Linked DNA regions of Homo sapiens. The protein of the gene in region 2 purifies or fractionates together with the protein of the main gene of each other region. This does not show direct contact. Each region holds a gene or a part of one and is shown on either strand. Other genes may lie near its edges.

What was found.
Region 1: the proteins of CDC26 (region 2) and EIF4G1 purify together in Homo sapiens (affinity purification with mass spectrometry; one large-scale study listed by BioGRID and IntAct). This does not show direct contact.
Region 3: the proteins of CDC26 (region 2) and CARM1 purify together in Homo sapiens (affinity purification with mass spectrometry; one large-scale study listed by BioGRID and IntAct). This does not show direct contact.
Region 4: the proteins of CDC26 (region 2) and NEK2 purify together in Homo sapiens (affinity purification with mass spectrometry; 3 studies listed by BioGRID and IntAct, with this or other methods). This does not show direct contact.
Region 5: the proteins of CDC26 (region 2) and DNAJB8 purify together in Homo sapiens (co-immunoprecipitation; one large-scale study listed by IntAct). This does not show direct contact.
Region 6: the proteins of CDC26 (region 2) and CDC27 purify together in Homo sapiens (affinity purification with mass spectrometry; 12 studies listed by BioGRID and IntAct, with this or other methods). This does not show direct contact.
Region 7: the proteins of CDC26 (region 2) and ANAPC16 purify together in Homo sapiens (co-immunoprecipitation; 5 studies listed by BioGRID and IntAct, with this or other methods). This does not show direct contact.

What each region holds. Positions count from the first base shown.
Region 1 is NC_000003.12:184,324,131-184,328,413, reverse strand, and holds part of EIF4G1 (eukaryotic translation initiation factor 4 gamma 1), read right to left. Parts: intron 4,214-4,283; coding exon 4,067-4,213; intron 3,537-4,066; coding exon 3,300-3,536; intron 3,146-3,299; coding exon 3,041-3,145; intron 2,935-3,040; coding exon 2,775-2,934; intron 2,719-2,774; exon of another isoform or gene 2,643-2,718; intron 2,564-2,642; coding exon 2,463-2,563; intron 1,888-2,462; coding exon 1,785-1,887; intron 1,534-1,784; coding exon 1,431-1,533; intron 1,199-1,430; coding exon 966-1,198; intron 829-965; coding exon 710-828; intron 585-709; coding exon 412-584; intron 1-411.
Region 2 is NC_000009.12:113,266,259-113,270,082, forward strand, and holds the end of CDC26 (anaphase-promoting complex subunit CDC26), read right to left. Parts: intron 1,182-3,824; coding exon 1,005-1,181; 3' UTR 734-1,004; downstream 1-733. UniProt on the Homo sapiens protein: Component of the anaphase promoting complex/cyclosome (APC/C), a cell cycle-regulated E3 ubiquitin ligase that controls progression through mitosis and the G1 phase of the cell cycle.
Region 3 is NC_000019.10:10,877,561-10,881,843, reverse strand, and holds part of CARM1 (histone-arginine methyltransferase CARM1), read right to left. Parts: intron 1-4,283. UniProt on the Homo sapiens protein: Methylates (mono- and asymmetric dimethylation) the guanidino nitrogens of arginyl residues in several proteins involved in DNA packaging, transcription regulation, pre-mRNA splicing, and mRNA stability.
Region 4 is NC_000001.11:211,662,020-211,666,152, forward strand, and holds the end of NEK2 (serine/threonine-protein kinase Nek2), read right to left. Parts: intron 1,634-4,133; coding exon 1,407-1,633; 3' UTR 753-1,406; downstream 1-752. UniProt on the Homo sapiens protein: Protein kinase which is involved in the control of centrosome separation and bipolar spindle formation in mitotic cells and chromatin condensation in meiotic cells.
Region 5 is NC_000003.12:128,463,743-128,468,713, forward strand, and holds the start of DNAJB8 (dnaJ homolog subfamily B member 8), read right to left. Parts: upstream 3,149-4,971; 5' UTR 2,872-3,148; intron 1,695-2,871; 5' UTR 1,534-1,694; intron 372-1,533; exon of another isoform or gene 369-371; 5' UTR 1-368. UniProt on the Homo sapiens protein: Efficient suppressor of aggregation and toxicity of disease-associated polyglutamine proteins.
Region 6 is NC_000017.11:47,154,796-47,159,078, forward strand, and holds part of CDC27 (cell division cycle protein 27 homolog), read right to left. Parts: intron 3,509-4,283; coding exon 3,411-3,508; intron 2,590-3,410; coding exon 2,435-2,589; intron 2,330-2,434; coding exon 2,118-2,329; intron 70-2,117; exon of another isoform or gene 1-69. UniProt on the Homo sapiens protein: Component of the anaphase promoting complex/cyclosome (APC/C), a cell cycle-regulated E3 ubiquitin ligase that controls progression through mitosis and the G1 phase of the cell cycle.
Region 7 is NC_000010.11:72,214,668-72,219,594, reverse strand, and holds the start of ANAPC16 (anaphase-promoting complex subunit 16), read right to left. Parts: upstream 3,584-4,927; 5' UTR 3,457-3,583; exon of another isoform or gene 3,319-3,456; intron 2,775-3,318; coding exon of another isoform or gene 2,742-2,774; exon of another isoform or gene 2,461-2,741; intron 1-2,460. UniProt on the Homo sapiens protein: Component of the anaphase promoting complex/cyclosome (APC/C), a cell cycle-regulated E3 ubiquitin ligase that controls progression through mitosis and the G1 phase of the cell cycle.

The DNA.
Region 1 (4,283 bases), on a different chromosome or scaffold from region 2:
ATACTGTTTTTTGGTTTTTTTTTTGAGACAGTTTTGCTTTTGTCACCCAGGCTGGAGTGCAATGGCACGATCTCGGCTCACTGCAACCTCCACCTCCCGGGTTCAAGCAGTTCTCCTGCCTCAGCCTCCGAGTAGCTGGGATTACTGTGCCACCACGCCTGGCTAATTTTTGTATTATTAGTAGAGACAGGGTTTCACCATGTTGGCCAGGCTGGTCTAGAACTCCCAACCTCACGTGATCCTCTAAGGAATCCAACCCACCTTGGCCTCCCAAAGTGCAGGGATTACAGGCATAAGCCACCACACCCGGCCAGGGAACCTACACTCTTATGCAAGGTTCCAAGGGTCCCAAAAAGGAGATAGAAAATTGTGGGTCTGTATAAGTGGGAGGCCCAGAGAAGCTGGTCATACCCTTGGTAGTACTGAGCAGTAGACAGATGCCCAGCACAGAGCAGCTGGTGCAGCAGCTGCCCCATATGCTCACGAGCAATGGCACTGCGCTCCAGCGTAGACTCGACACCATGCCGTACAAAGATGAAGAGCAAGGAGGGTGAGGCCAGCTCCTGCACGCACTGGACTGCCTCCTGAGGGGTGCAGGGCACAGCAGGAAGAGACCAGTCACTGTCTGACCCAGACCCCGGACCCCTATGCCTGCCAGCATGATCCCTCCCTGCCCACTCCTCAATCACACGCCGCTCCCACTGCCTACTTTCATGTCATTGAGATGGAGATATTCCTCAATGATAGCCTTGGATTTCTTCTCTAACTCCTCCTCAGAGAGAGCCGCCTTCAGGGGGCTCACTGGGGGTAGGGCAGCTTCTCGCTTCACTGTGGGAAGAGAACACAGATTAGAGGGACTTTTCAGTCTTCCCAGCAAACAAGATTTGGAGCTCTCAAAAAGCTGGGGACCAGCTAGTCCCAAGGCAGCCAATGCCTTTCCCTCCATTCCTCTCCCAGACTCTCACCGGCATCCCGCCCACGGTCCCGATCCTCCGTGAGGCTAGCTGCCTTGCGCAGCCCCTCAGGCTGGGAGGGCCGTTCTCTACTCCGCTCCTCCACTTCCTTGCTGAAGCTCCGCTTGGTAGCAGGTGTCCGCGCACGATCAAGCCGGTCCCCACGGTCCCCTCCCCGTTCACTCCGCTCTAGGCGGTCTCCTCGGTCTCCAGCTTTCTCGCCTCGTTCTCGGCTCAAGCTACTCCTGGAAGACAGACAGACAAATTTTCACTCACTTGCACTGCCCAGGCACTCATGTAATTACACAACATGCTGAGCAACTGTTGGGCCTTGTTCTTAGCATAATGAGTATGCCCCAATCTAACCCAAGGGCTCCAACCAGGACAGGTATGAAGAAATTTCCAACCTATGGCAACAACCAGAACCCAATCACGGTACCCCCAGTGTGAATAACAAAGATGTCCAGGAAACCTCACCTCTGCACCACACGTCTATTATCTGTGCTTTCTGTGGGTACCGCTTGTTGAAGGGCTGAGAAGCGATTCAAAGTACTAGTAGCTGGGCGAGCAGCTTCTGATGCTGGGGATGCAGAAAATCCGTATTAAAATCTTTTTCTCCTTTCCTGCATTTTATCCCCTACTTGCCAGTTTAGGACACTTGGTCCCAGTCCCAAAAGTAAAGCAGTTCAATCCCTGGAACCACAACACAAACCTCCTCTATTGCCCGCATTGCCTAACCACCTTGTACTGAAGGCCTCCCTAACAGAAAAGGCTCTGTCCTCAAGGGAGCTCTGACGGGTAACCACCCAGCTCCTGACACTGCCTCCATACCTGCGTCTGAGGGCTTGGCTCCTGAGCCTCCGCTGCTGCCCTTGCCCCAGCTCAGTCGCCCTCCAGGTGCAAAGAGCTGGTTGTTAGAATCGATGGAGCCAGGCTGAAGAAGAAAAGGGGAGTAGAATCATAGGTCCAACCCGGCTGAGTCCCTTGGCCAGCACCACCATATGCAACCAAACAGGTAGTGAATGGCCCAGTCCAGGGGTCAGAAAATCTTTTTTAATAAAGGGCCAGTCTCTATTGCAACTACTCAATTCTGCCACAGTAGCATGAAACCAGCTGTAGATGATAAAGGCATGCTGTGACTGTGTTCCAATAAAACTTCATGGACACTGACATTTACATTTTATTTAATTTCCACAGCATAAATTACCATTCACTTTTTGATTTTTCGCAACTTTAAAATGTAAAAACCACTACTGGGTCCTGGGATGTATGAATGGGCTGGATCTGGCACGTGTGTGTGTGTGTGTGTGTGTGTGTGTGTGTTTGCCAAACACTGGTCCAGACTAATGGGAGTACCACCCTCCCTCTACAGCTGGCAGTCCTGTCTCCAGCAATCCAACCAGTTAGTCTAAGAGGAAACATTCAGCTGTCACCTTCTCAACTTTAGAAAAGTGAAGGGACTAAGATCTAAACCTGAGCTGAATCACCCACTCCCACACACACCCCTACCTTGGTGATCTTGGTGAGTCGTGAGGTGTCAATGGGGCGGCTACCTTTGCTGATGGGAACTGTGTTCCAGCCACCATCATCCACAAGGGGAAGTCCACGGCCTGACACAAAAAGAGGGGCATACTGGAATAATGAATAAATCCTAGCAGCCCCTTCCCCTTGGGCCACCCCCAGCCTCCCTTCCTCAGATCCTCAGTTCCATCATGGTGTCTCAGTGGCCCAGACACGTGGCACTAACAGGAAGTCATCAGAGGAAAGTATAACCTCCCGGTCCCTTCACTGCTCCCTTCTCAATCCCAGCTTGGAACTCACTGATGGGAGGGCCTGGAGGACCGCCCCGACGCTTGTCACTGCCCTTGGCCATGAGCTGCTGCACTTTGATGTGCTCTCGATGTTCTTCCATCTCAGCCTCCTTATGGATCTGGTCAATGGTCTTGGGACCCTGATCCCCTCGGCGTGGCACCCAATTGCTCTGTGGAGACAGAGGGCCAGTCACGATGATGTCAGGGAAGGCAAGACAAGGCAGTGTCAGAAACTGGAGGCAGCAGGCTGGCAGTGGGGAGGAGGGGGACACACACCCCTCGCAGATCCAGCACGTCCTGCAGCATAAAGCGGATGCGGGATGACGTCTTCTTTTCTTTAATGATTTTTTCCATCTGGTTGAAATACTGATCCATTCGGGGCTAGGAAGGAGAAAGGCATCAGACCAGGAACTTCTCATGTCCCACCTATAACTGCAGGCCCCACCCCTCCTCAGGCCTTCCGCCCCATCATTGTGGGCTCAGTGAGCCCCACATATGCTTCAGCCCATCCCCCTCCAGATGCAAGGACCTCTACCTTGGCTTTTTCAAAGTCCAGGTCTTTGCCAATGGTGGTGAGCAGACGACAAAGGCACTCAAGGGACTCTTCATCATGGTTCTTAAGCAGTTTGACCACACAGTCATGCATTATTGCCTCTGTTAACATCTTCAGTTTGAACAACTCTCCAATAAACTTGATATTCCCTAAAGAGCGCCGCCGGGCTATGTCCCGAGCCTCTTCCAGCTCTTCCTTCAGGCGTCCTCGTTCCTCTGCCTGCCATTCACAGGACAGGGATTGTGTCAAAAAGATAACCAGCCACTCGGCTAAAACCCTTTTCTACCTGGATATCCAAACCTAGCAATAAGCACTCAGTCCTGAGGCCGGCTGGCTGGGCATAGTGGCTCATGCCTGTAATCCCATCAATTTGGGAGGCTGAGGCAGGCGGATCACTTGAGGTCAGGAGGAGTTTGAGACCAGCTTGGCCAACATGGTAAAACCCCGTCTCTATTAAAAATACAAAAAAATTAGCCAGGTATGGTGGCACATGCCTGTAATCCCAGCTACTTGGGAGGCTGAGGCAGGAGAATCGCTTGAACTCAGGAGGTGGAGGCTAGCCAAGATCACACCACTGCACTCCAGCCTGGGTGACAGAGCAAGACTGTCTCAAAAAGGAAAAAAAACGTCCTGAGCCAGAGAAATCCCCAAGACACCACTACCTCCATTCCAAATTCTACAGCTGAGTAGCATCTGGGTAAGGGAAGGAGGTAAGTGGTGAGTGGAATCGATAGTGGGTTTTCTCTCACCGTAGCAGCTTCATCCATCTCTTTTTGCTTCTTCTCAAAAACCTCATCATCATCTTTGTCTTTCTCAAACTCCTTCTGACATCGATTCAACAACAGCTTTCGGAAGTTCACAGTCACTGTTGGCTTTTCCGTAGTGGGCACTTTCAGCTGTAGGTCAGAGAGAATGTCACACTCAAGACTAGTCCTGGGCAGGGAAGGCCCTCCAAGAGCCTTTAAC
Region 2 (3,824 bases):
ACCACACCTGTCCCTCTCCCCCTCGTATTACTCAGACTTAAACTACCCCAAAAAGGCTAAAGTCCTGCTAAGAGTCTCCGTAGAACTGATGATTCAAGAGGCTCTTATGATCACAGCTGGTGATTCCCTGTGTTGAATTAGTGAAAACAGGCCAGGCACAGTAATCCCAGCACTTTGAGAGGACTGCTTAATGTCAGGAGCTCAAGCCCAGCTTGGGCAACACAGATGCCTGTCTCTACATAAAACAATAAAAATTTTTAAAAAAAATTTTTTTTTAATGCCCAGAACAATAGGGCATGATTCAAAATTATCCTCCGAGCTGCCTCTCTGGTTCTTTCTGGGAAAAACACTTAGGCAAGTTGAGAAAGGAAGGAAAGTTGGAATAATGGCAAAACTGTTAGAAGCATTCCTCTTTCCTCCATTGCCTGTCCTCCCAACATTATACCCAAACTAGTTACAAAGCCATTCTGTAAAGAGATCGGGTACCTACAATTTCTTCAGATTTACACAATATCCACTAGAATTTAATTTCTACAAGGGCAGGGATCTTTGTTGAGTGGCACATGGTAGACACTCAATAAATACTTATTGAATAGATGGGTTAAGTGAAAGTGGCAGGGATCAACTAGAGTGTCCTGTGCTTAGGGTCTTTTAATAAAGATGGAAAGAATGATGTTAATCTTGTAGCAATTATCTTTTAAAGTCTGGGAATTAACAGTACTGTTATACTTCATTAAGGATGCCTCACATTTTTCCAAAAATATATTTATTTTTAAAAACAGAAAATCAGATCAGTTTTATAGAGTCAAATTTTCAAGAGACAAACCAGAGTTTGGATTCCAGCTTAGAGTGCAAGTGAAGCATCAGTAATCTCATGCAGAAGATTTGTCTCTGCAGGAGGTACATTCTGCTTGACTGCAAGCACTCAATTCTCTAAATCTGGTTTGTACTTCTGCCATCATTTTATTCCATTCCAGCGCTCTGGCATGCAAGATAATCCATCTCTAAAATTCAAGACTTCCAAATTGAGATGAACGATTATTGGGCTTGGGTTGGGGTTTATAACCAATCCGATCATTGATCATTTGTTCCCGGCTCTTGGGATCACTGCTAAGCCCAATGGCTCCTTCTCCATCACTGCCTCCTACAACTTCCACATCTTCCTTCTGTTTCTTACGGGTCTGAAAGTATAAAAGTTTTAGGATTAAGGCAACATTCTTTCAATTAGCAAATGTTTATTTAGAACACCTACCATGTACTAGGCATGGGCTAAATGATAGAGTTAGGGTGTAAAGAACAATAAACTGAAATCCTAGGTTTGGAGTACTTAGGGGCACAATGAGGATATGGTGTTAAAAGTTGTAACCCCTGATCACTTGAGGTCAGGAGTTCGAGACTAGCCTGGCAAACATGGTGAAACCCTATCTCTACTAAAAATACAAAAATTTGGCGGGGCACGGTGGCTCACATCTGTAATCCCAGCCCTTTGGGAGGCTGAGGCGAGCGGATCACGAGGTCAGGAGATCGAGACCACCCTAGCCAACATGGTGAAACTCCATCTCTACTAAAAATACAAAAATTAGCTGGGCATGGTGGCGCATGCCTGTAATCCCAGCTACTTGGGAGGCTGAGGCAGGAGAATCGCTTGAACCAGGAAGTCGGAGGTTGCAGAGAGCTGAGATGGTGCCACTGCACTCCAGCCTGGCGACAGAGCGAGACTCTGTCTTAAAAAAAACAAAAGATGTAACCCCTACCCTCCAGGATGTCACAGTCTAATAGGGAAACAGGCAAACAGACGATTATAGGGTGATCAGGGCTATGACCTATGACAGAGAGAAGTCTACACTGCCAAAGAGACAAGAGGTAAGGAGTTGGGGTGTGGTGGTACAACAGGAAGCTACAATTGGAAAGCTGTAAGAGCAGACAAGTGAGAGCAAAGGGCATTTCAACAAATTTATTATTCTAGAGAATAGAAAAATAAATTGGGTAAAGAAATAACCACCAAAAATCTATAGCCTGACTGATCCCATGAGATTAAAAGTAACTCAAGAAGGTTTTATGCTATCTTATCAAAAGGTCTGGGTTTTGTGGCTTCATTTTGTTTTCAGATAAAAGGTTTGGCTCCTAAGTCACATGTGACTGCAGAATCCAGAAAGTATGTCTTAGTTTGATCATTTTCAAAAACAGACACTTATCCCATAACAGCCACTACCTGACTGTAAGGATAACAGATGATAACTTTCTCTAAGAGAGTGAAATGATGTTTTATCCAAAGTTACTTAATAGAAGAATGGCTCAGCTACTCAAATCACTGGAATTACCACCATTCTTCACCACTTGCTGCTGAACTGTGGGCATTTAAATGCCAAGCATCAGGCTGACCGCAGTGGCTCATGCCTGTAAATCCCAGTGCTTTGGGAGGCCAAGGCGGAGGATTGCTTGAGCCCAGGAGTGTGACACTAGCCTGGGCAACATAGTGACACTCCATCTGTCTCCACAATTTTTTTTTTTTCTTTAGACTGAGTCTCTGTCTGTTGCCAGGCTGGAGTGTAGTGGCGCCATCTTGGCTCACTGCAACCTCCGCCTCCTGGGTTCAAGCGATTCTCCTGCCTCAGCCTCTCAAGTAGTTGGGACTACAGGCGCATGCCAGCACACCTGGCTAATTTTTGCACTTTTAGTAGAGACAGGGTTTCAACATGTTAGCTAGGATGGTCTCAATCTCTTGACCTCGTGATCCGCCTGCCTCGGCCTCTCAAGGTGCTGGGGTTTACAGGCATGAGCCACCGCACCCGGCCCACAAAAAAATTTAAAAATTAGCCAGGCATGGTGGCGCATGCCTGTATTCCCAGTTATTCAGGGGGCCTGATGTGGTAGGATCACCTGAGCCTGGCAGGTCAAGGCTGCAGTGAGCTGTGATCATGCCACTGTACTCCAGCCAGGGCGACAGAGCAAGACCCTGTCTCAACAATAAAAATAAAAAAAAAAAATAAATGCCAACACTCACAAAGTATTACAGGGAATAAAATAAGGTATTGCCTTTTATGTGGCAAATGACCTTCCTGATTACTAGTAAGTGATGTTAGAAAGTTCTACCTAAATACCTTTGTGAAAACAAGTTCGAAAAGGCAAACAACTCTATCATTCTGAGAATATCCAAATGGAATGAAATCACTTAAAAGGCTTCCCACTTTGAGCAACTGCTGTTTCAGAAGCTAGAGTCACAGTAGTATAATCAAACTCATGTTGGTAATAAATGAAACAGGCCAGTTTTCTACTGGTTTCACTTTAGGGCATGACTGTCCCTGCTTCCTAAGTTACTCTAAAACAAGGTAAAACCCACTAGATAACTGTCTTTAGTGGAAAGACTAACTCAATAGTGAGCTGACTGTAGAGTCAAAGTTCAGCATGCTAGCATTTTATGAGATTCGTTACAACTGAAGTTTAAGCCATACTTTAAAGCTCATGCTTAATAATATATGAGTTTTTAGAAAGCAAAAATTACGATACTTAGAGAACACTAAAGTCTCTTGGGATGAAGCAGGGGGAAAGAAATCTAAGTTATTAGTCTTAATATGAAGCATATACAATACATAATAAAGCTGTTGGTGAATATATGCAAAACGTACTGTCCTCTGCCATATAGTACAAGATACCTACTAGGACAGCAAATGAAAATAGACTTGCATTGAGCCCTCCTTTGGACCTGGTATTGCAGGGAACAGATGCAGAGAGAAATATACTAATCCCTGACTTCAAGGAGCTTATGGCCCAGTGAGGGAAAACAAAAGCAAACAGACAATTACAACAGAGAGTGACCGTGCCTA
Region 3 (4,283 bases), on a different chromosome or scaffold from region 2:
GGTGCACAGCAGACGCTTGGTGAATTTCTGCTGACCATTTCAAGCTGGCTGGATGGGAGCTACCGCACTATGGAGACGGCGAGTCCACTTTCGCTGCCTGTTTCTGGCTGAATGAATGAAAGAGTGGGTCTCAGTGGGCTGGGAAAGGTCACCGTCCCCCCTGCTCTCTCTGCAGCTCCACTGTCACCTCCCCCAAGACCTGCCATCTGGCTGGCCCCTCCCCCACCCCAGCCCTCCAGGGGACTGCTCTCTGAGGTCACCTGTGACCTCCTGCTCAGAAATCCAGTGACCGCCCCTTGGCTCTCACTCTGACCTCTCACGGCATCTGACCTTGCTGCCCTCTCCTTCCTGCCCTTTCAAAGCTTCTCGCCTGTCCCTGGAGAGATGTCCTGGCCCTGCGCAGAGAGCCCCCAATCCCTTACCAGCCAGGGCAGACTCCACTCCCCAATCAGGTGCTGTCCTCCAGGAACTGGTACCCTTTTTCAGTCACAGATCCTTCTGAGAAGCTGACCGAAATCAGGGGAGGTTCTGCACAGAAAAATGTGCAGAGAATCCACAGCTACACCACGGCCAATTTATGGAGCACTTACTTCGGGCCAGGCACACAGGGCAAAGCTTTTCTTTTCTTTCTTCCTTTTCATATATCACAAGTCATCAAGCAAGAAGCATTTTTTTTTAGAGACAAGGTCTTGCCCTGTTTCCCGGGATGGAGTGCAGTGGTACGATTATGGCTCAATGTAGCCTCAAGCTTCTGGGCTCAAGCAATCCTCCCGCCTCAGCCTCTGGAATAGCTGGGACTAGAGGCATGTGCCACCATGCCGGCTAATTTTTTTAAATTATTTTTTAAGAGATACAGTTTCACTGTGTTTCCCGGGCTGGTTGTAAATTCCTGGACTCAAACCGCCCTGCTGCCTCGGCCTCCCAAAACCTGGGATTACAGGCATGAGCCTCTGTGCCCAACTGGGGTGAAGTATTTTACATGTGTTTCCTCCCCTCCACGAAAACCTCCAGGGAGGTGCCACTGTCACCCCCTTTCAGGGAGGGAAAGTGAAGCTCAGAGGCTCATCCACAGTCACAGCTACCGATTCTTGTCCTTTTACCCCTTTGCAAAACTGTGTCCAATTGTGAGGGGCTCATGGGACCGCCCCCAGGGGCCATCCACAGACCAGATTAAGAACCCGAGCTCTGGAGCCGTGGCTGCCATGACTCACACCTGTAATCCCAGCACTTTGGGGGCCAAGGTAGGAGAATCGCTTGAGCCCAGGAGTTCCACATCCGCCTGAGCAACATAGTGAGACCCTGTCTCTACAAAAAAAAAAAAAAAAAAAAATTAGCCAGGCATGGTGATGTGCGCCTGTGGTCCCAGCCTGTAGAGAGGCTGAGGGAGGGAGAATCCCTTGAGCCTGGGTGTTCAAGGCTGCAATGAGCTATGATCGTGTCACTGCACTCCAGCCTGGGTGACACAGCAAGACCCTGTCTCAAAAAAAGAAGAAAAAAAAATCCTAGCTCTGAGCTGATGGAACTGATGGAAACCCCTCCCAGCCTCAACTCGCCACCTCAAGCAGCCAGGTGTGGCCCAGGTGGGCCCCTCCATCCTGCCCTCGCTTAAGTGGCTGCTTCCCTGGATGTCTTTGCAAACTCACCACCTCCCAGGTTCTCCAGCAGACCTTAGAAGCAGCAGGTTTCCGCAGAAAGGAGACACACCTGCCACAGAGGTCTTCCTGAGCCTCTCCACCTGCTAAATCCAACCTGGTCTGAGGTGTGTGAGGCTTGGCATCTCAAAGTCATTAGCAAGTTCACACCACACTCCAGCTTCTGTTGAAAGGCCTTGCCCACCCATCTCATCCAGACCCCCTACACAGAGGGCCAGTGCTTGGTGACCAGGAGCTGCTCACAGCACTGGACACCTTCCATTAAGATTTCACCTGAGGCTGGGTGCGGTGACTCATGCCGGTAATCCTAGGACTTTGGGAGGCCAAGGCAGATGGATCACTTGAGGTCAGGAGTTCAAGACCAGCCTGGCCAAAAGGGTGAGACCCCCGTATCTACTAAAAATACAAAAATTATCTGGGTGTGGTTGCACGCACTTATAATCCTAGCTACTTGGGAGTCTGATGCAGGAGAATGACTTGAACCTGGGAGGCTAGAGGTTGCAGTGAGATGACATTGAGCCACTGTGCTCCAGCCTGGGTGACAGGGCGAGAATTCATCTCCAAAAAAACCAAAAAAATCCTCGATTCCAACCCAGCCCTGTTTCCACTTTTAGCCCCTCCACTCCTCACAGGGGACCCTGTGCTCCAAGCCAGGTGGCTGTCTCCAGCCCTGGCCCACTGGAGCACCTCTCCATAACCCAGAAACGTCCTTCCCAACATTCTGGCCAGGTCCAGATCCTACCCACTGTGGCCAAGGTGACTCCCTGTATGTTCTCTCTTTGTCCATGGAAACTGGAACCCTAAATTCAGCTGAGCACATGGCCGCTCAGATTGAAAACTACATTTCCCAGCATCCCTTGCAGCTGGCAGTGATCATGTGACTACATTCTAGCCAACAAAATGAAAGCTGAAGCACCTTGCATCAGCTACCGGGAACCTTTCTTAACAAACACCTGGATGTGACCTTTGCACCCTTTCTCCTTTGTCCCTTCCTCTGTCCTGCTGTCTGGAAGCCAGGGTGTAATGGCGGGACTCCAGCAGTCATGCTGAAACCTGAGGACAAGACCTCACCTTAAGAATGGTGGAGGATCAGCCTGGGGCAGTGGCCTGTAATCCCAGCACTTTGGGAGGCCGAGGCGGGTGGATCACCTGAGGTCAGGAGTTTGAGAACAGCCTGGCCAACGTGGCGATACCCCGTCTCTACTAAAAATACAAAAATTAGCCAGCCGTGGTGGCACACGCCTGTAGTCCCAGATACTTGGGAGGCTGAGGCAGGAGAATCGCTTGAACCCGGGAGGCAGAGGATGCAGTGAGCTGAGATCACACCACTGCACTGCAGCCCCTGGGCAACAGAGCGAGACACCATCTCAAAAAAAAAAAAAAAGCCGGGGGGAGGACCTGGATCTGGGAACTTCCAAGAGCCCAGGAGACTTTGGCACCTGACAATCTTCACACTTTAGCATTAGAGCACAAAAAATAAAATGCCATCGTGTTTAATTAAGCCTCTGCTACTTTGGGTCTTTGTGATGAACAGATAAATGTCACTGAACCACTTATATATGCATTTAAGGTGGGCATCCAGTCACCCAGAATGCCAAAGCCATCTCTGCTGCCTGCCAACCACATCACTTTGGCCAGTCAAGTTCTTTCATTTCTGTTTTTCCACCAGTAAATTGGGGTTGGTATCTCTGACCTCACAGAACTCTTTTCAGAGTAAGTGGTAACATACAGTAAGCGCCACAATTGGCACAAGGGGCTCACACAATTCAGAAGTATGCTCTATTCGGCCTGAGGATTTTTTGGTTTCTCTTTTGGCTGGGGCCAAACTCCCCACAGACCCCAACTCCTGCCTGCCTCATTCATTTATCCCAGGGGTCTACAAGCTTCCCCTGCCTCGGGCCAGTGAGTAAATATTTCAGGTTTTGCAGGACACTGTGGTCTCAACTGATTATTGTTGTTTGTGGATTGGGTTTTAGTTTTTTTCCCTAATCAATCTCTCAAAAACTGTAAAAGCCTTTCTTAGCTTTGTCTGTACAAAAATAGGCCACACCGGGCCCAGCGGTTCGTGACTATAATCCCAGCTACTTCTGAGGCTCAGGCAGGAGGAGGATGGTTTGAGGCCAGGGGTTTGGGGCCAGCCTGGGAAACACAGCAAGACTCTGTCTCTAAAAAAATTGCTTAAATTAGCCAAGGGTGGTGACATGTGCTTGTAGTCCCAGCTACTTGGGAGGATGAGGCCAGAGGATCACTTGAGCCCAGGAGTTAGAGGCTGCAGTGAGCTACTAAAATACAAAAAATTAGCTGGGCATGGCGGCATGTGCCTGTAATCCCAGCTACTCGGGAGGCTGAGACAGGAGAATCGCTTGAACCTGGGAGGCAGAGGTTGCAGTGAGCCGAGATTGCGCCACTGCATTCCAGCCTGGGCAACAGAGCGAGATTCCATCTCAAAATAAATAAATAATAAAACACAGGCTGGGTGCGGTGGCTCGCACCTGTAATCCCAGCATTTTGGGAGGCTGAGGCAGGCAGATTATTTGAGGTCAGGAGTTCGAGGCCAGCCTGGCCAAGATGGTGAAACCCTGTCTCTACTAAAAATACAAAAATTAGCCAGGGTGGTGGCACAGGCCTGTA
Region 4 (4,133 bases), on a different chromosome or scaffold from region 2:
GAAACACCCTCACAGACACATCTAAAATAATGCTTTACCAGATTTCTAGGGATTCCTTAATCCAGTCAAGTTGACACATAAATCAACAAGTTCACCCCTTATCAACTCGATATCCATCCACATCTCTTAAACCATACTTAATTTCCAAATGAAGACAATAACAAGGTAATAGTTCTGCCTAACATGATGCAATTATCCTGTATACAGCTGAAACGGCACTAATCCCTAACCTCAAATTCGGCTTTCAGGATTTTAACATCTGGGATTTTAATCTTTCAGGATTGTGATTTTGGAAGTTCACACATTAGGGATTCTGATCTTTTGGGATTTAAGACATTAGGGATTTTGGTCTTTCAGGATTTTCGCATTTGAGATTGTATCATTCAGGATTATGATCCAAACCCATGGACATTTTGTTGTCAGCAGCTGTCCTGTGCATTGTAAAATGTTTACAGTGTCCCTGGCCTGTACCCACTAGCAGCCAGTAGCACCCTACCCCAAATCATGACAATCAAAAATGCCCCCAGACATTGCCAAACGTCTCTTGAGGAGCAAAATCACCCTGTTAAGGACCACTGGCTTACATACATGGATTAATGAGATGGGAGGTAAAGCGCCATACAGTTTAGGACTGGAATGCCACTCCCTTGAGCATCAGATCCATGTTTCCTTCTGTACCCTACAATGAAGACCTACAAATCATAAACACAACTCCCATCAACTAAGAGACCAACAAATGCAAGACACATAACTACAGGGAAACTGAAGAATTCTTTTATTTAGTGGGAAAGAAGTAGGTAAATGACAGACAGCTCATATTCTGTTAAACAGAAAAAAAAAAAGAATACAAACATCACAGTGATGAATTTTCACAAAGCTAACAGATTTGAACTACAGAGCAATGGAATATTTATAAGCAAGATGTCATGGTATTAATGACCAAATTGCATCTAACTGGGTTTTCTAAGCTCAAAAACATTTAAAATCTCAGACTTAAAATTTAAATCTAGACATGACAATTGTAAGCATACCACTCAGTCATTTAAAACTATTCAGTGAGTGCTACTCTTCCTGCATAAATATTTTTTTCCTAACATTATTTTTTCTCCCAAGATTTAGAATGTCACATCTCATGTTCCTACTAGTAATCACACACAGGATTAAAAGCCCAACCAAGAAAGTATTCTTTTTATAATATGTTCTTAAAAGAAGAAAGAAAAATTAAATGTGAACATTTTGTACAATAGTTGCTGAAGAACAGTAAAACCAATTCCGAAATATCATGTGTACTATACAGAAAGGCATGGCTCATGGAACCAAGTATTCAACACTACAGCATTTGAATATCAGTCTTTAAAGGTTGGTAATATTACATCCTGTACACAGCTCTGTGTCTCTCTACCTGGCTAGCGCATGCCCAGGATCTGTCTGCTTTTCAGTTGGTAATTTTTCTCAATATCTGACAGGGCTTGAGCCCGCAGCTGGGCAGCGTGAAGCCTTTTCTTCAGGTCCTTGCACTTGGACTTAGATGTGAGCTGACTCTCAGAATTCTCACTCCTCATGATGTTCTCTTTACTTTCCCCACTGAAATGAACTTTCTTCTTAATTACTGAGGATGGAAGATTAAGAAGTTCTTTAGAAGGAAAAAGAAAAAGGGCTCTGAGTTACTTGAACAGAGTTCAACTCCTTCATACTTATACTTATCAAAAAGTATTTGCTCTTATGGCTCACATTTGAAATCTAGGTGCCTGTTTTATTTTCTCTGGGATAGGAGGTTAGGGGTGTAGGACTTGCAGAAATCAGCCTTTTAATCCACAGCATTGAAAAAATAATATTGGAATGTGCCAAAATTCAAGGAACATAAGTTTTATTCTCTTAACAACCAACAATCAATTTTACTCTTAAACACACTGAGTATTATGGACAACATAAAACTTTTGGAAATCAATGTTATTTATCTCTGTCCTTGAAAATAAGTGCCATTCTATGCAGAACACCTTACCTACAGAAAAGTGTAGAAGCAGAGGTTTTTTTCTGTCTTTGTTTTTTTTTTTTTTTTTAAATAGAGAACACCTACAGTTTTGGTTAAATGTTCAAGAACACTTAGTTCAAAGCATCTTAATGGACGAGAAATCTGTTTCCAAAAAATCTAAACAAATTCAGTGTGGAAAAGGTAAATCAAGTAAGAGTAGTAAAAACTGTAAACTATTCTTTACATGGAAAAAATAAATAATAATCATATTTACTTAAAGTGGCAACACTATTAACTGCTGACAGAATTACTGGGGGCTGGAGGCTTACAGATTCTAGAATCCTTTTATTTTTTGTGTTAAAGGAAATATGTTCGAATATTTACTGAGCTCATAGGATGGGCCACTGTGAACCAAACAAAGGCCCTATTCTAGTAGGAGGAGATAAACCAAACACAAACAAACAAGTACTGGTGGGGAATATTTGATGGTAATACGTGCTATTAGGAAAAATAGCTCTGGAAACAGGGACATGCTGGGTGCTGGGTGCTGGGTGTAATGATACAAAGCCTCATACAGCATTTCTGAAGTAAGAAGCCACAGGGCTGTCTGGATGAAGAGTGCTCCAGGCAGAAGAAATAGGAAAGGCTGGCACACAGATGCACTGCCTTCCAAGGGTCCTGTGACTTCCCGCTTCATACGTCGCTTCTGCTTCAAAGCAAACTGGATTGCTTTTAGACCTTATCTCCACTGTTTCAACTCTATCCACCTTCTTATTACCACAAATACCTTTACATTTGTAAGTCAACATTGTCTTACTAATGGGATAGTTTTATTTTGTTTTTGTTTTTGTCTGAGATGGGGTCTTGCCATGTTTTCCAGGCTGGAGTGCAGTGGCTAGTCACAGGTGCAGCTGTAGTGCACTACAGCCTTGGACGCCTCGGCTTAAGTGATCTTCCTGCCTGAGCCCCAGAGTAGCTGGGACTATAGGTGCGTCACCACACTTGGCTCTTAATGGGACAGTTTTATAAGAAAGAAAGTGTTTTAAAAACATTTTTAAAATTCTTCCATTAAATAGAAGAATGAATATTTCATCAAATACGAAAAGAACAGCTTTTAAAAAAGACACTGCTGCTTGCTGTGATGATTTCAATATACTTGTGATGGCTTCCTCACGTGTGGATTTTATAGCCCAAGGATGGGGAGAGAATATTTCCAACTGTCCTGAGTTCAGAATGGTACCCGCTCCCCACTGCTATGATGCTTATCTTATAGCTCTGATGTGTTCACTACTTTCAGCACTCAATACCCTAAAATGTCTGCTTGCCCCAGTGGATACTTGATTCCTATGGCTCATTTTAAATATTTGCCATGATTCACATATAAGTAGATTCCCATACTTATCTGTGTATCCTATAAAGTAAAACACATCATCCTTACTTAGCTATTTTCATCTTTTGCTCAAAGACTATCAGGGCAAATGTAAATAAACTCTTTAACCGAACAGCCATCCCCAACAGGGTCTTAAGTAATTCTCTGCAATGGGTTTGATGCATGAAATTCATCCAGGTAAAATTTTCTCCTCATTTTATCACCCTAATCATGATTTAAGTCTATTTTGTCTTTATGGATGACAGTGTGGAATCTATGAAAAGCCAGAATAAATATTTTTATAATATTGAAATGGTAGACTGCAATATTGGGAAAAAAGAAGGTATTTTAACAGAGATGAAGCCAAAGTTTCATATAATCCTTGTTTCATTTACTTCTATCAGTAGTTTCATTTCTTTCCATCACTTATTCACTACAAAGTTATTGTGATCATCAATCTAACTTAAGTAGGGTTTTTTGTCTGTTCCATTTACAAAATGCTGCCAATGCTCACTAAATTGATCACACTACATCTCAATTTATTAAAGATGGGAATAATAGCTTTCATATATGCTGTCCTACATGGAATAAGGGAGTTATAAAAACTCTAAATTTTATTGAAAATTCAGATGCTCGATTTTTGAAACCAACAACTTTTAACAGTTAGTTTGTGTCATAAATCAAGCAAAAAGATGTTTCACAGTTTGCATTTTACATAATCTTAAAGAGTCGATTAAATTAGATTGAGGGTTTCTATAAAATGGAGAATGTTAGACAATGGTTCACTGGTAT
Region 5 (4,971 bases), on a different chromosome or scaffold from region 2:
CTGTGGCCGTGGTGGGGGAGGCGGGCAAGGGCGTCCTGGGTATGTCCACTCGGCCGATGGCTGGGCAGCAGCTGAGGCAAGAGGAGGCCAAGGTGGGGTTCAGGCAGGCTGGGGTGGGGACAAGAGCCTGCTTTTTTTGTGCCCATTATCTGGCCAGGTCTTCCGGGGTAAGCTCCACAAAGGCGGGAAAGTCTGTCCCTGTCTAGGACAGTGGCTGGCACACGAGGGCCGTCGGTAAACTCTTGGATGAACCAGGCTCAGAGACACACAGTGCTCAAGGTCACACAGCGAGTCAGTGAGGGAGGGGATGTGAAACCAGGGCCAAGGCTGCAGCGGACAGCAAATCCAAAGAAGTGTTCCACTCAATTCTGGTAAGAAAAATAGGAATTGATGATAAATATTGATTACTGACTGTAGTGGGTTGAATGGTGGCCCCCAAAAAGATATGTTCCTATCCTAATCCTTGGAACCTCTGAATGTGAGCTTATTTGGAAAAAGGATCTTTTCGGATGTAATTAAATTAAGGATGTCGAGATGAGATCATCCTGGATTATCTGAGTGGGCCCTAAATCCAGTGACACATGTCCGTATAGGAGATGGACACTGACGCAGCTGGAAGCTGGGGGCCAGGAGGGTTCTCCCTGCAGCCTCCAGAGGGAGTGCGGCCCCACTAACACCTCGATTTCAGACCTCTGGCCTCCAGAACTGGGGGAAGAGATTTCTTTTGTATTGAGCTACCCAGTTTGTAATAATTTGTAACAGCCCTAGAAAACGAATCAGGTGAGTGAGGTAACCAAATATTCTTAGGCATTTATATTCCTTTAATTCTTGTTCTGGTGTTGGATCATATATAGAAACAGCAATTCACAATACTGATTAATATCTGTTCCTACCTTCACCTCACCCCACTCCAATTAAGATCAAAACCATGCTAAACCACCTACTAACCACACCAATAAAGAGCCTAGATGTTTGGGTCACCAAGTCTTAACTAAAGATAGCCTTCCTGCCTGCCTTCTTTCCTTCCTCCCTTCCTCCCTCCCTCCTTCCCTCCTTCTTTCCCTTCCCTTCCCTTCCGTTCCCTGCCTTCCTTCCCTCCTCCCTCCCTCCCTTCCCCCTCCTTCCTTCATTTCCTCCTTCCTTCCTTCCTTCCTTCCTCCCTTTCTCCTTCCTTCCTTCTTTCTTTCCTTCCTCCCTCCCCTTCCCCCTTCTCCCTTCCCTCCCTTCTTCACTCCTGGCTTCTTTCCTTCCTCCTTCCTTCCTTCATTCCTCCCTTCTTCCTCCTCTTCCTTTTTCTAGTCTTCATCCCTTTCTATTATCCTCCCTCTCTCTCTTTTCTTTCAGTGCTCATGGGTGCTAGGTTTCAGGCTCCTAGCAGGGGACAGTGTGTGTTCTAACCAATCCCAAATGCCAGGAGGAATGGAGACAGACTGTAGAGACACTTTGTAAACCCAGCCTCCAGTGACCATCGCTGTCCCTCCATGCAGCTTATCAAAAGCACGACTCGCACCCCCATGCTGGGCATCCACCCACCTACACCTGCTGACACATGTGGCTTAGCAGAGGAGTTGAAGAGCAGAACTTCTCCACTGGATGTAGCTACAGATGAACCTGATTCTTTATCTCTGTGGCTGGATTTTTGTCACTATGTCTCGGTTAGCAGTTAGCACCTGCTGTCCCTTGCAGGCTTGTTCCTGGGGCGGGAGAAAGATGCTTGCCCTGCACAGTTCTCCATGATGGCGGTGGCAGTGGGAGAGGCACTGCTGTTGACTGTGTTGCTGGTGGGGAGAGGCACGGTGGGTGTCCATGGAGATGGATAAGGTGTCATTATATAGTAGAGGTGACCATGGGAGCAGTGTTGATGTGGAGGTAATGGTCATGGTGGGTGTGAGGGGGAGAGTAATTATGGGTGATGGTGGAGTTGATCATGATGATGGTGATGCTGGTGGTGACAGCAGCAAGGCTTGTGCTTGAGAGTAATTGATGATGGTAGTGGTGGTGGTGATGGTCATGCCAGAGGAGATGGTAACAGCGAGCCTTTGTTGTGGTTGGCAGTGATGGTGCAGGTATGATGAGGAGGTGATGGGAATGGCTCCTAGTGAGCCATTGGTGTGGTTGGCAGTGGTGACAGTAATGGTGATGATGAAGGTGAAGGTGGTGGAGGTAGCAGAGGTTGTATCTTGTTCGGCTATACCACAGTGACAGCTTCCACCTCTCAGTGGCTCACGACAAACATCTAGTTCCCCCCACTTCACTCACTGGTGCCTACAGGCAGCTGCCAGGGCCCCACCTCCCATAGCTTCTCACTGTGGGTCCCAGGCTGGAGAATCAGCTCTGACCTGCACACCCCTCTCTCATGACAGTGCCACTCAGAGACAGCAGGAACTTGGGCTGCCTCTGAAAGCTTCTGTTGGGCCATGATGTGTGGCAGTCTTGCTGCATCCCATGGTCAAGGCCAGTATCCATGGGGCAAAGAATGTTTCCTTCAGGAAGGTTCTGCAAATCTCAGGGCAATAGGAAGAGAGGCCTGAGATTCCCATGGGGAAGAGGGAGTGAGCAGTTCTCCAACATATGCCAGATGCTCAAGATGGGACTGACAGCGGGGCTGGTAACGATGGCTCTGCTGGGAGCAGTGTTGGTGCTGCTGGTGCCGGGGACACCCGTGGTGGTGATGGGATAGGAGGCAGGAATTGTGCTATTAATGGAGGATGGTGGTGAGGGTGGTTGTGGAAGAGGCAATGGTAGAGGGGGGTGCCGAGGGGTGAGAAGGACACAGTGGTGGACATGCTGGTGTGAGTGCCGATGGCGATGGTGATGGCACTGAGGTGTGGGGCTCTGTATTTTCTGTTGCTAACTTGGCATTACACCAACCTCTTCCATGGTCTCCTTGCATCCTGGAGAAATCTGAGGGATTTTCCAGAATCCCATCACCGGTATAATTCCAGACTAGAGCCTGCCAATACAAGGGATTTGGAGAGTGGAAAAGAGAGGCCGTTGCAGGCAGGTGACAATGGTGAGCTTTGCAACAGCTCGGGGCAATCTTCTGCGAAGACCCTGCTTCTGAGCCACAGGCTGAGGCATGGATGGGGAGCTTCCTGGAATACCGTGAGCTCCTCAGCAGCTCCCAGGCAAGCTCTAGAGAGCCGCTCACCTGGGAGCTGCAGGTGAGCATCTCGATTCCTTGTTCCCTGACCGCTGGTCCCAGACTGTTCAGGGTGCAGCGTGTAGTAAATGTCCTCCTCCTTGGTACACATTTGAGGGCTGTGTACTGTGAGGGTGATGGCGGCTCAGATGAAGGTGGTGGTTGTGATGGAGTTGGGTGTGAGGATAGCAGAGAGAAAGCAGATGGTGACATCAGGAAGGCATTGGAGGGGCAGTGGTGGTGGCAGTGATGATGGTGGCAGTCTAATTAGAGGCAGTGGTGGGTCTGGCTGAGGCAGACCCGGTGGTGGTGATGGTGGTGGTAGTAGAGGGGGCAATGACGGTGGTGATGGCAAAGGCGGTGTGAGTGGTTGATACTGGTGGCAGAGCTGATAAGGTGATGTCACAGATGGGATGGTGGGTGGAGATGGAGGTGGAGGAAGTGTGGTGACAGTGATGTGGTGGTGACACAATGCTGACACGGGTGGAGAGCACCGTGGTGACGGTGACAGAGATGATAGTGATAGTGGGGCTGGTGGCAGTGGTAGAGGAGATGGGGATGGGACGCTGGGGTGTTGATGGTGATGGTGACACTGCTGAGGGTGTTGGTGGCCTGACATTGTAAAGGTGAAGCCTGAAGTTTCCATGACGATGGAATCAGGACAGTGGAGGAGGGGTGGTGAAAACAATGTTAAGAGACAAAGGACCTAGTATGATGAGGCATCCAAGAATCCTGTGGCCGCCTCCCCGTCCTGGCCCTCCCTGCCTTGTTGGAGACCCTGGCTCTGGTCTGCGTTGTACTCCCAGGGGAAATTTCTTCCAGCCACTGCCCTGCTCCAACCCTTGTTCCTGGGATGGGTCTGTGGGAGTCAGCCAGGATGGAGACAGGGCTGGAGACCCCCTCACTGCCGCCCATTCAGGGCTGTCTTAGGGCACACAGAACAGACCACTCGGTAGGACTTACGGGAACAGGTGTGTCACCTGGGAGCAGGTCCCACACCTCACCATCAAGGGCATCCTGAGATGGAGGCCCCTGTGGGGAGCTCCCCATGAAGGGAGCTGTGGACCGTGGAGCCGGGCAGTGTGCAGAGGAGTTTCCCTTCTGCAAAGGGTTCAGGCTAGTCTCCTTCCACGCCAGTTTTTGGGGAGCCAGTGGGGAGCATCAGGGGCTCTGAGGCCTCCATAGGGCCTGCTGGAGGGACAGGGACACACAGGCATGAGCGCACACTTAGGCCCCACACGCTCCACCGTCAATTCTGTCAGGCCACCTCCCCTCTTCAAGCCTCTCTGTCCTCATTCACCAGTGGGTGCTTTTGGGGATTTGCCCTCTCTGGGGAGCCAGCCTAGGCTTCCTGGCCTCAGATGTCCCATGTCCCTCATCTCAGGCCCACCCTAAAGCCAACCCCGAGCCATGGCCAGGGAGAGAAGGACCTTCAGCGACCAAGCGAGGCCCAGAGAGGGCAGGGCACACCGAAGGTCACACAGCAGTACCAGGAAGGTCTCCCCCGGGCGAGCTGATGGAGCCGATTAAGCAGCCAATTGGTATTCGGAGCAGCCAGAGGCCCCTCTCTGTCTCTGTAATTAATGGAGTGGCTTTTTAAAAGGATTCTAATCACCCCCGATCCTATCTGCTTATCACTAGAGTTCCTAATTAGATGATCCTGGCAGTCACTCAGCTAATTCCCTCCAGCCCCCTGCAGGCCTGCCTGGCCTGGGCAGCCCACCCCACCCCCGGCCACCCTGGCCCGGCCAGATGGGCAGTTTGGGGCCTTCTCTCCCCTCAGGGCCCCTGGTCCTCTAACTGCATTAGCTCCAGGATGGATGGGCGAC
Region 6 (4,283 bases), on a different chromosome or scaffold from region 2:
GGTTGAAATCAAGGTGTCAAAAAGTCATCAAGGCATATATAAAGCAGCAGTATACTTAAATTAGAAGGTCTAAAAGGAAGAGAATGGCAAATCAGTCTTAGGGACAGTGAGGATCTGAGGGGCAGATTAAAAATAAGCTGTGAATGTAGACTATTCCACCCACCATAACTAAAATTTTAAAAAGCTATCAAACAAGGAACTAAACTGAGCAACAATTACTGATCTCAGGAGATTTATTAGAAATAAAGAAGAGTAGCTTTATAAATCTAAGATCCAAATGATGAGATTACTTCAAATTCTTGGAATTTATGGGATTTAGACACAACTACAGAGAAAATGTCTCTAGAGACCATTAGATAACTATAACTCTCCAGAGTTGTAATCTCATGGTCATGCTATTTTAGTAGTTCCCCGGCCTCAGGACCTGATTCATAGAATTTCTTCTAGCATATATGTATATATTTTTTTGAGACAGAGTCTCGCTCTGTTGCCCAGGCTGGAGTGCAGTGGCATGATCTCAGCTCACTGCAACCTCCACCTGCTGGGTTCAAATGATTCTTGTGCCTCAACCCCCAAAGTACCTGGGATTACACGTATGTGTCACCATGCCGGGCTAATTTTTGTAATTTTAGTAGAGATAGGGTTTCACCATGTTGGCCAGACTGGTCTTGAGCTCCTGGTCTCAAGTGATCTGCCCACCTCAGCCTCCCAAAGTGCTGGGATTACAGGCATGAGCCCCCATGCCCAACCCATTCTAGCACATAATTTTTCATTTTGATACTTTTGGATATGTATCCTCTGGGCTGAGTTCCTGTATTTATACATACATATACTTCTAATAATTTTGATAAAATATTTTATATTAATAGGTGTGACAGCTAGGTTCAGTGGCTCACGGTAATCCTAGCACTTTGGGAGGCCACAGCAGGAGGATCACTAGAGGCCAGGAGTTCCAGATCAGCTTGGGCAACACAGCAAGACCCCATCTCTACAAAAACACTTAAAAAATTAGCCAGGTGTGGTGGCATGTGCCTGCAGTCCCAGCTACTCAGGAGTCTGAGGTGGGAGGATCGCTTGAGCCCAAGAATTTGAGGCTGCAGTGAGCTATGATTGTGCCACTGCACTCTAACCTGGGTGACAGAGTGAGATCCTGTCTCAAACAAAAAAAGGTAGGTGTCAAATTTCCTCCATGTTTTGGAAAAAGGCACTTTAACAGTAACCAGTGGTGCCCTGATTATAACATTTCATGAGGCTCACCGCTATCCATTAATGCACAGCCATAAAGACAGTATTTTTTAATGTGTTTACTACCTAATTAAGGAATATTTCAGAGTTTTAAATTTTCCTCCAATTTTTTTTTTGAGATGGAGTCTTGCCCTGTCTCCCAGGCTGGAGTGCAGTGACACCATCTCGGCTCACTGCAACCTCTGTCTCCCGGGTTCAAGTGATTCTCTTGCCTCAGCCTCCCGAGTAGCTGGATCTACAGGCGCGTGCCACCACACCCGGCTAGTTTTTTGTATTTTTAGTAGAGACGGGGTTTCGCCATGTTGGCCAGGATGGTCTCGATCTCCTGACCTCGTGATCTGCCCACCTTGGTCTCCCAAAGTGCTGGGATTACAGGCGTGAGCCACTGCGCCTGGCCAGTCCAATATTCAATATCAATTTTTTTTGAGTTGGAGTCTTGGTCTGTCGCCCAGGATGGAGTGTAGTGGCTCCATCTCGGCTCACTACAACCTCCGCCTCCCGGGTTCAAGCAATTCTCCTGTCTCAGCCTCCTGAGTAGCTGGGATTACAGGCGCCCGCCACCATGCCCAGCTAATTTTTGTATTTTTAGTAGAGACAGGGTTTCACCATGTTGGCCAGGCTGTTCTTGAACTCCTGACCTCAGGTGATCTGCCTGCCTTGGCCTCCCAAGGTGCTGGGATTACAGGCATGAGCCACCGCACCTGGCAACATCACTATTTGCCAGTTTTTACTTCATTTTCTGAAAACAGAATGCCCCTGTTTCCACAGTGATTTAGAAGTTGCTGTTGTAATAATCTGCATTACTAACAATATGAGTTATCATAAGATCATTTGGTATTATAGCACATTTGAAAGTATCTTGTTTGACTTACCTTGGGGTTAATGGACTAAGAGCTGCTGGTCCTCCTAATAAACTTCGACCAGTTTTTGGTTTATTTTGAACCTGTTTAGATAATATGGAAGTTCCTGTTCCCAGTGGGACAGTATCAGGTGAAATTACAGCTGAATCAATATAAGACACTGAGGAATCTGTATTCAAGGAGTACTTTGAATTGGAAGATTCTAAATTCAATCTGTTTAATTCCTGAAACAGAAAATTTCTACCAAGTCATTCACAATATATTATTTAGTTCAGATCATTCTTTGTAGTTTTCATAATATTTTGAACACTAGAATATAAGACACTTACAATTGTGTCCTGGGGTGTTTCCGTAAGAACTGTCTCAGGCTGTCTGTGAGATAAACTATGATTAGGTACTTGTGTTGTGCAAGAGTTGGGCAGACAGTTGCTAAAGTTCTGTAAAGATGTGAATTTAAATGTTTGGTCAGGATCTGGCTTTTCACCTGTGAAGACAAAAAAAAAAAAAGTTTGTCTCTGAGGAAGTGAGGAATACATGTTTTTCAAGTATGCATAAATCAGTGGAAACAGGAAATAGGCCTTATCCAAACTTTAAAAATCTCCTGTCCACTTCTGCTAATCAAATTTACCCCCAAAAAACCCATCTATCAATATATCATAAAAGTTTACCAGTAAGATAAAGCTGTAAATGAAAATAAACTACAAGAACACTAATTTTAAACATAACAAATCGCAGAAAAATGCAGATTTCTGTGTTTGTTTTAAAGCTGAAAATAACTAGATCTCATTTTTCTCAAAGTAGGAGATGAGGTTGAAGAGTTAAAACCCATCATATTTTACAGTAAAGGTTGAAGCCCTTCTATATATACATAGATGCAACAATGCTGAAAAATGGTCCTTTATGTATCCTAGGCCAAATATACTGAGAAATTCTCTCCCTGTACTGTTCAGGTCTTGTAAGTTTCAGGCATTTATTAATTGCATTAGAAATTTTATTAATTTTCTTATTCAGAAAGCAATTTTGCTAGTGTTAAACACACAATATAACCCATTCTAGAGGACACCAGATACTTGAAAATAGATTGGTTCAACAGAAGAATCTACTGGATTTAATCTTTGTGTAATTTTCAGTTATATGATTCTTGAAACATACCGAAGATTCTAACTTATTTTTTATTCTCAATTTTAACTTTGAAAAATATTTTTCTTGGGGGTAGATGATCTGTATTGCTCTCCAAAAATTAAGTAGCAGGAAAAAAAGAAGAGGAGATGGGAACCCACCCACCTCTCAACCCCACCCACCTACCTATTTCACATAATGATTCAAAGGGAGACCAGAGGAAAGGATTTAAACTAAGGCTCTTTTGGTAACATTCTGATCCTTTGGCAAGCCGATCTGTCTTGCTGTGGAGAGAAACAAGTAGATTAAATAAGCTACAAACCCCAAAACCTGTATCATAAACTTTTAGTATAAAAAATTAGGTAAAAGTTACAGAAGTTCAGAGAGCACTCTTTGTGATGCTTCTCTAAGTTACCAATTTCTCCCATCTGCTAATCTCCAAATCAAGTGAAAGCGCACAGAACATGAATCAAAAGAAATGCTTACAAAACAAACTATCGTTGCCTTCTTGAATATTACTATTACTTTAAACTTCCTGTCAGATACTAGAGTTATTGAGGGAGATGTGAAAAACATCCAAATCCTTCAGTATTATTCTTAATTTTTTTTTTTTTTTTTGGACAAGGTCTGGCTCTATCATACAGGCTGAAGTGCAGTGGCATGATCTTGGCTCACTGCAACCCCTACTTCCTACGCTAAAGCCATCCTCCTACCTCAGCCTCCTGAACAGCTGAGACTATAGGTGCGCACCACCATATCCGGCTAATTTTTGCATATTTTGTAGAGACCAGGCTTCACCATTGATGCCCAGGCGGGTCTTGAACTCATGAGCTCTGGTGATTTACCTGTCTTGGCCTTCCAAAATGCTGGGATTACAGGTGTGAGCCACCGCACCTGGCCTTTTTGTATTTTCGTCGAGATGGGGTTTTGCCATATTGCCCAGGCAGGTCTCGAACTCATGAGCTCAAGTGATCTGCCCACCACAGCCTCCCAAAATGCTGGAATTACAGGCGTGATCCACCACGCTTGGCCTTAATTTTTAATACAACATTCCCAGTG
Region 7 (4,927 bases), on a different chromosome or scaffold from region 2:
CCACTAATTTTGTTTATTTTTTGTAGAGAGGAAGTCTCACTATGTTGCTCAGGCGGGTCTCCAATTCCTGGGCTCAAGTGATCCTCCCACCTCAGCCTCCCAAAATGCTGGGATTACAGGCCTGAGCCACTCTGCTCAGCTGACATTTTCAATCTTGTTATTAGATCACTCTTCCTCTTTTCTCTGAGCTCTGATAACTTTCCAAATTGTACTCATATCCACAGAGGCAACAACTTTGGGAGTTAGATTAATATCCAATCTTCCGGACTACACTGGGTCAAAATACAGCCTGACAAGTTTTTGAATTGTTTTTGAACTTAAGCAGTAAGGGACCAGGTCCAAATCTCTAAGTGAATTCCTGGTGGGATTCAAATAAAGTATACAGACAACTTAGCCATCTTTTGGAGAGCAGCTCAGTCTTTATTTCCCATCAGTTCAGAGTAGAACCCACGGTGAACTGTTTATATATCTCACCTAAGATTTAAAACTCTAATCTATTTTACCTACACCCTGATAAATGCTCTATTCAGTTGCAAATGCTTTATACTTTATATTTTGAAGTCAGGTGCTGAGCAGAGCACCCAAGCAACTGCCAGAGTGAGGACAGCTTCAAAAGGTAGCCACAGTGTGACTTCTAAGCTGAATATAATCAAACGAACTCCCTTTCATCCTGTTTTCTTCCAAACTCTCAGAACTACTATCGTTCCACACACAAAACAGCCAGGGTTGAAAACTGGAGCACAGAATTAGCATAAAGCTAACTTTAAATAAGCAGTTTTCTGCTGAGGTGGAAGGATATACCTAAGTAATTTCTAGCTCTAAAGATTTAGGTTAAATTTTGAATGCTACCAGCAAGTGGTAAATGAGAGTAAAGCAAAACTAATAAACCCTAGATGGTAACTGCTCTCAGGGCAGGAATTAACTGATCACCAGAACCAAACATAACACCTGGCCTATAGTAAGGAAGTAGTTGTTCACTTCAGTAAATGTTTGCTGAGTGAATTAAATATTTCACAGAAACCACAGATTCCTTAAAGGTCATCTAACCCAACTTCCCCATTTTATATATGAAAAAATAAAACTGAGGTGTAGAGACAATTTTAGCTTATCTGCTGTGACATTTTGAAGCAATGGCTTGTTGGTATGTTATTTGTCATGTGCAACGTAAAGCAGCATAATGGGTAAGATTATGAAGCCTCTCTGAGTTCTGGTTTTGCTACTTACTTGCTGCATGACTGTGGACACATCATTTAACCCATTTATGCCTAGTGTTCCATTACTGGAACGCTAAGCATGTGGGAGTTATTTATACCCTACTGCTCAAGGTCATCGCCAAGGTCTGATGCCAAAAATGTAAAAAATTGCAACCTCCGGCATATATATATATATATATATATATATATATATATATATATATATATATATATATTTTTTTTTTTTTTTTTTTTTGAGACAGAGTTTCACTCTTGTTGCCCAGGCTAGAGTGCAATGGCACGATCTTGGCTCACTGCAACCTCCGCCTCCCCCTCCGGGATCTTTTTGTTCCTTAGTTGTCTTATCTGCAAAATGGGAAACAGGTTGAGTACCCTTCATCCGAAATGCTTGGGACTTGGAAGTATTCTGGATTTCGGATTTTTTTTTCAGGTTTTGGGATATTTGCATTATACTTAATGATTAAGCCTCTCAAATCCGAAAATCTAAAATTCAAAATGCTCCAATTAGCATTTCCTTTGACCATCCTGTCAGTGCTCAAAAAGTTTTAAATTTTGGAGGATTTTGGATTTCTGGATTAAGGATACTCAACCTGTAATAACGGCACCTACCTCACACAGGTGTGACAAAGATTAGTTAATACACGTAAAACACTTGGAACAGTTACAGGCTTAGTAAACACTTCATAAATCTTGGCTATTCAAAGTCATTAACGGAGAGTTACTACTGAGTCTTTTTTCCTATGCAGATCCCAGGTTTTCATACTTACTATGAAAAAACCTCATGGGAAAAGTATTAATTCTCTCCATCTAACAGAGTCAGCAAGCTCCCACAGGAGAAAGAATCTGTTCAGGAGGAGGGCCAGTGCCTTCTATTAAGCACTTTACACTTTCCTTTTTTTTTTTTTTTTGAGACGGATTCTCGCTGTCACCCAGGCTGAAGTGCAGTGGCGCGATCTCGGCTCACTGCAAGCTCTGCCTCCTGGGTTCACGCCATTCTCCCGCCTCAGCCTCCCGAGTAGCTGGGACTACAGGCGCCCGCCACCACACCCGGCTAATTTTTTGTATTTTTTAGGAGAGACGGGGTTTCACCGTGTTAGCCAGGATGGTCTCGATCTCCTGACCTCGTGATCCGCCCGCCTCGGCCTCCCAAAGTGCTAGGATTACAGACGTGAGCCACCGCGCCCGGCCTACACTTTCATTTTAAGGTTCAATGATCTTAAGAAACACCCTGCCACCTTCGAAAAGTCTTTCTACCCTCAATGCCGAGCACAGAACCTGGGGCAGTGTTTCCACTGTGCTTCCAGTCCCGAGCATTTCGGATGAATGAATGATGAACAAACGACAGAACGCAGGGCGAGCAGCTCAGCAAAGGTCATGCAGGAGATAGAGAAGCGCTGTGTCATGAGTATTGGATCATTATGGATTTTTTTCTTTCTCATTGTGCAGATCTATTCGCACAACTCTATCTTCAACCAGTTTGCCAGGCCCACCGGAGGTGCCCAGTAAAATTTTGTCAAACAAATACTGATGATGAAGTATCCTGGGACTTGGCCCTGTCAGGTAAGTTGGGGCTGACAGTGGAGATCCTCACAGGAGAGTAACGATGCTTTGTGGACACAGATTGCTGTGTCCGAGCTAAGATGCTTAAACATTTACTTCATGTACGGCAGGGATGACCTCGCATTCATATATTTATGAATATAAATTCCTTTCCTTTCTAACAGATATATGCCTATTTTCTTAAAAAGAGTAATTCCTTAAAAGTTCCTACCCTAGTACAAAGGCAAATTATTACAAGTAATCATTAAATTCCATCATCAACAAATCGTTCCACTTCAAAACAGCTGGATTACAACCCAAACCAAATAGATGCCGCAGCTGTAACGGGGGGGGGGGGGGGCGGGAACGGGGCGGGGGTGGGCGTGGAGAAAAAGTGGCCAGAGAGGGGAGCGCTCAGAACACCAGCGGCTCCCAAGCTAACTCCTAGCCACTTTTCCCACCCAGCTGGGTCCCCAGGAAACTACGCCATCGGCGCTGTCCCACTGCGCAGGCGCCAGCCCTCGGCCCGCATGCGCACTCGGTCAAACCCGGCCTGGGGAAATTTCCTATCGCACGTCTGCTGCAGCAGTCTCCTGTTTCTCCTCCTACCTTCTCCATTTTTCTAGTCCCTGCAGGTAGGATCCTGGGGGTTAACTCCCTTTTCACCAAGCTCCCGAGGGCCCTCGACCCCTCGGCCTCTTACCTCAGCGGCTTTAGCACTTTCCCCTACAGCCCCACCCCCAGGACCAGCCTGAGTGGCTGCGCTCACCACGACGAGGACCGCGGCGTGTTCGCCCCCCAACAGACGGAGCCAGCGGCGAAGGCGGCGTGCGCGCGCCCGTGCCGTGGTGGGCGTGGCCGGGGCGGAGACGCGAGGAGGGGAGCAGAGAACGCGCTCGCGTAGAGGAATTCCGGGTCCTCCTCCTCGCCCTACCTTGGTTTACCTGCAGCCGCCTAGTCCTCTTCTCCTTCTCTTTGATGATTCAGGGCCTCGGCTTCCCTCACGATATTGCAGAAAGACACAGCTTTCCTCTTCCTCTCCAAACCACCTCGAAGCAGGGTTAAGTTGGTTATTCCTCTCTTTCCTTCCGAGCAGTCTCGTAGCGCAGGGCCATGTAGGACAGGTAGATGCTGCATTTGCTGTCTCCGCGACAACTGCCTGTTCTTCCGGAGCTCGTGGTCTGAGGGCCCGACTTTCATCTTAGTCTGTTTTTGTGGGGAACATTTTTTTTTTAAGCTTTTCCTTTGAAAGTCTTTTTTCGTTGAGAACTTTAGAGGCCTCGGGGAATAGGCCACTGGGTTGTGATGTCATCGAGTATTGCTAATGATGTGCCCTTTTCCTCCATCCATGTCGGTTTACCTTCTGTGTTGTTATTTCTCACGAAACCTCTTCTTGGTTCTGTAAGCGCACAACTCATCAATTATTATTTTATTTATTTTTTTGAGACGAAGTCTCGCTCTGTCGCCCAGGCTGGAGTGCAGTGGCGCGATCTCAGCTCACTGCAACCTCCGCCTCTCAGGCTTAAGCCATTCTCGTGCCTCAGCTTTCCCAGTAGTTGGGACTACAGGCGCCCGCCACCACACCCGGCTACTTTCTGTATTTTCAGTAGAGACGGGGTTTCATCATGTTGGCCTGGCTGGTCTCGAACTCCTGGCCTCAGATGATCCGCCTCGGCCTCCTAAAGTGCTGGGATTACAGACGTGAGCCACCGCGCCCACGTTGGCTTGAACATTAGTGTATTTAGTAAGGATCAACTTGTTTTCTTTGGAACTTTTAAGTATTTTGGGCTTCAAGACTATCTAAGCTGTACGTGGTAGGAATATTGGTTGAATTTAACCTCAGCTAGCCTGTAAGGAACCTTTGTTTCCTAAATTATTGATTCATTAAGTGATGTGACCAGAAGCTTGGCTTCGCAGTGAGCGATGTGCATTTTGTTGGGCAGTGGCCTGTGGAAATTGGATTCCCCCCTTCAGCAGTATGTTGGTCTGAGAACCATATTGGTTAAGTTGTTATTTTAACTGTGCTTTAACAGACAACTGGAACTGATTGTTTGGTATGAATTTCTAGCACCTCTAAAAGTACTTAGGGGCTTTTTTTTTTCTGGATGGTTAAGTGTATTAAATATCCCTCATTGTCTTAATTATCTTGCTAGATAGAAAGAGTTTGCTGGGCG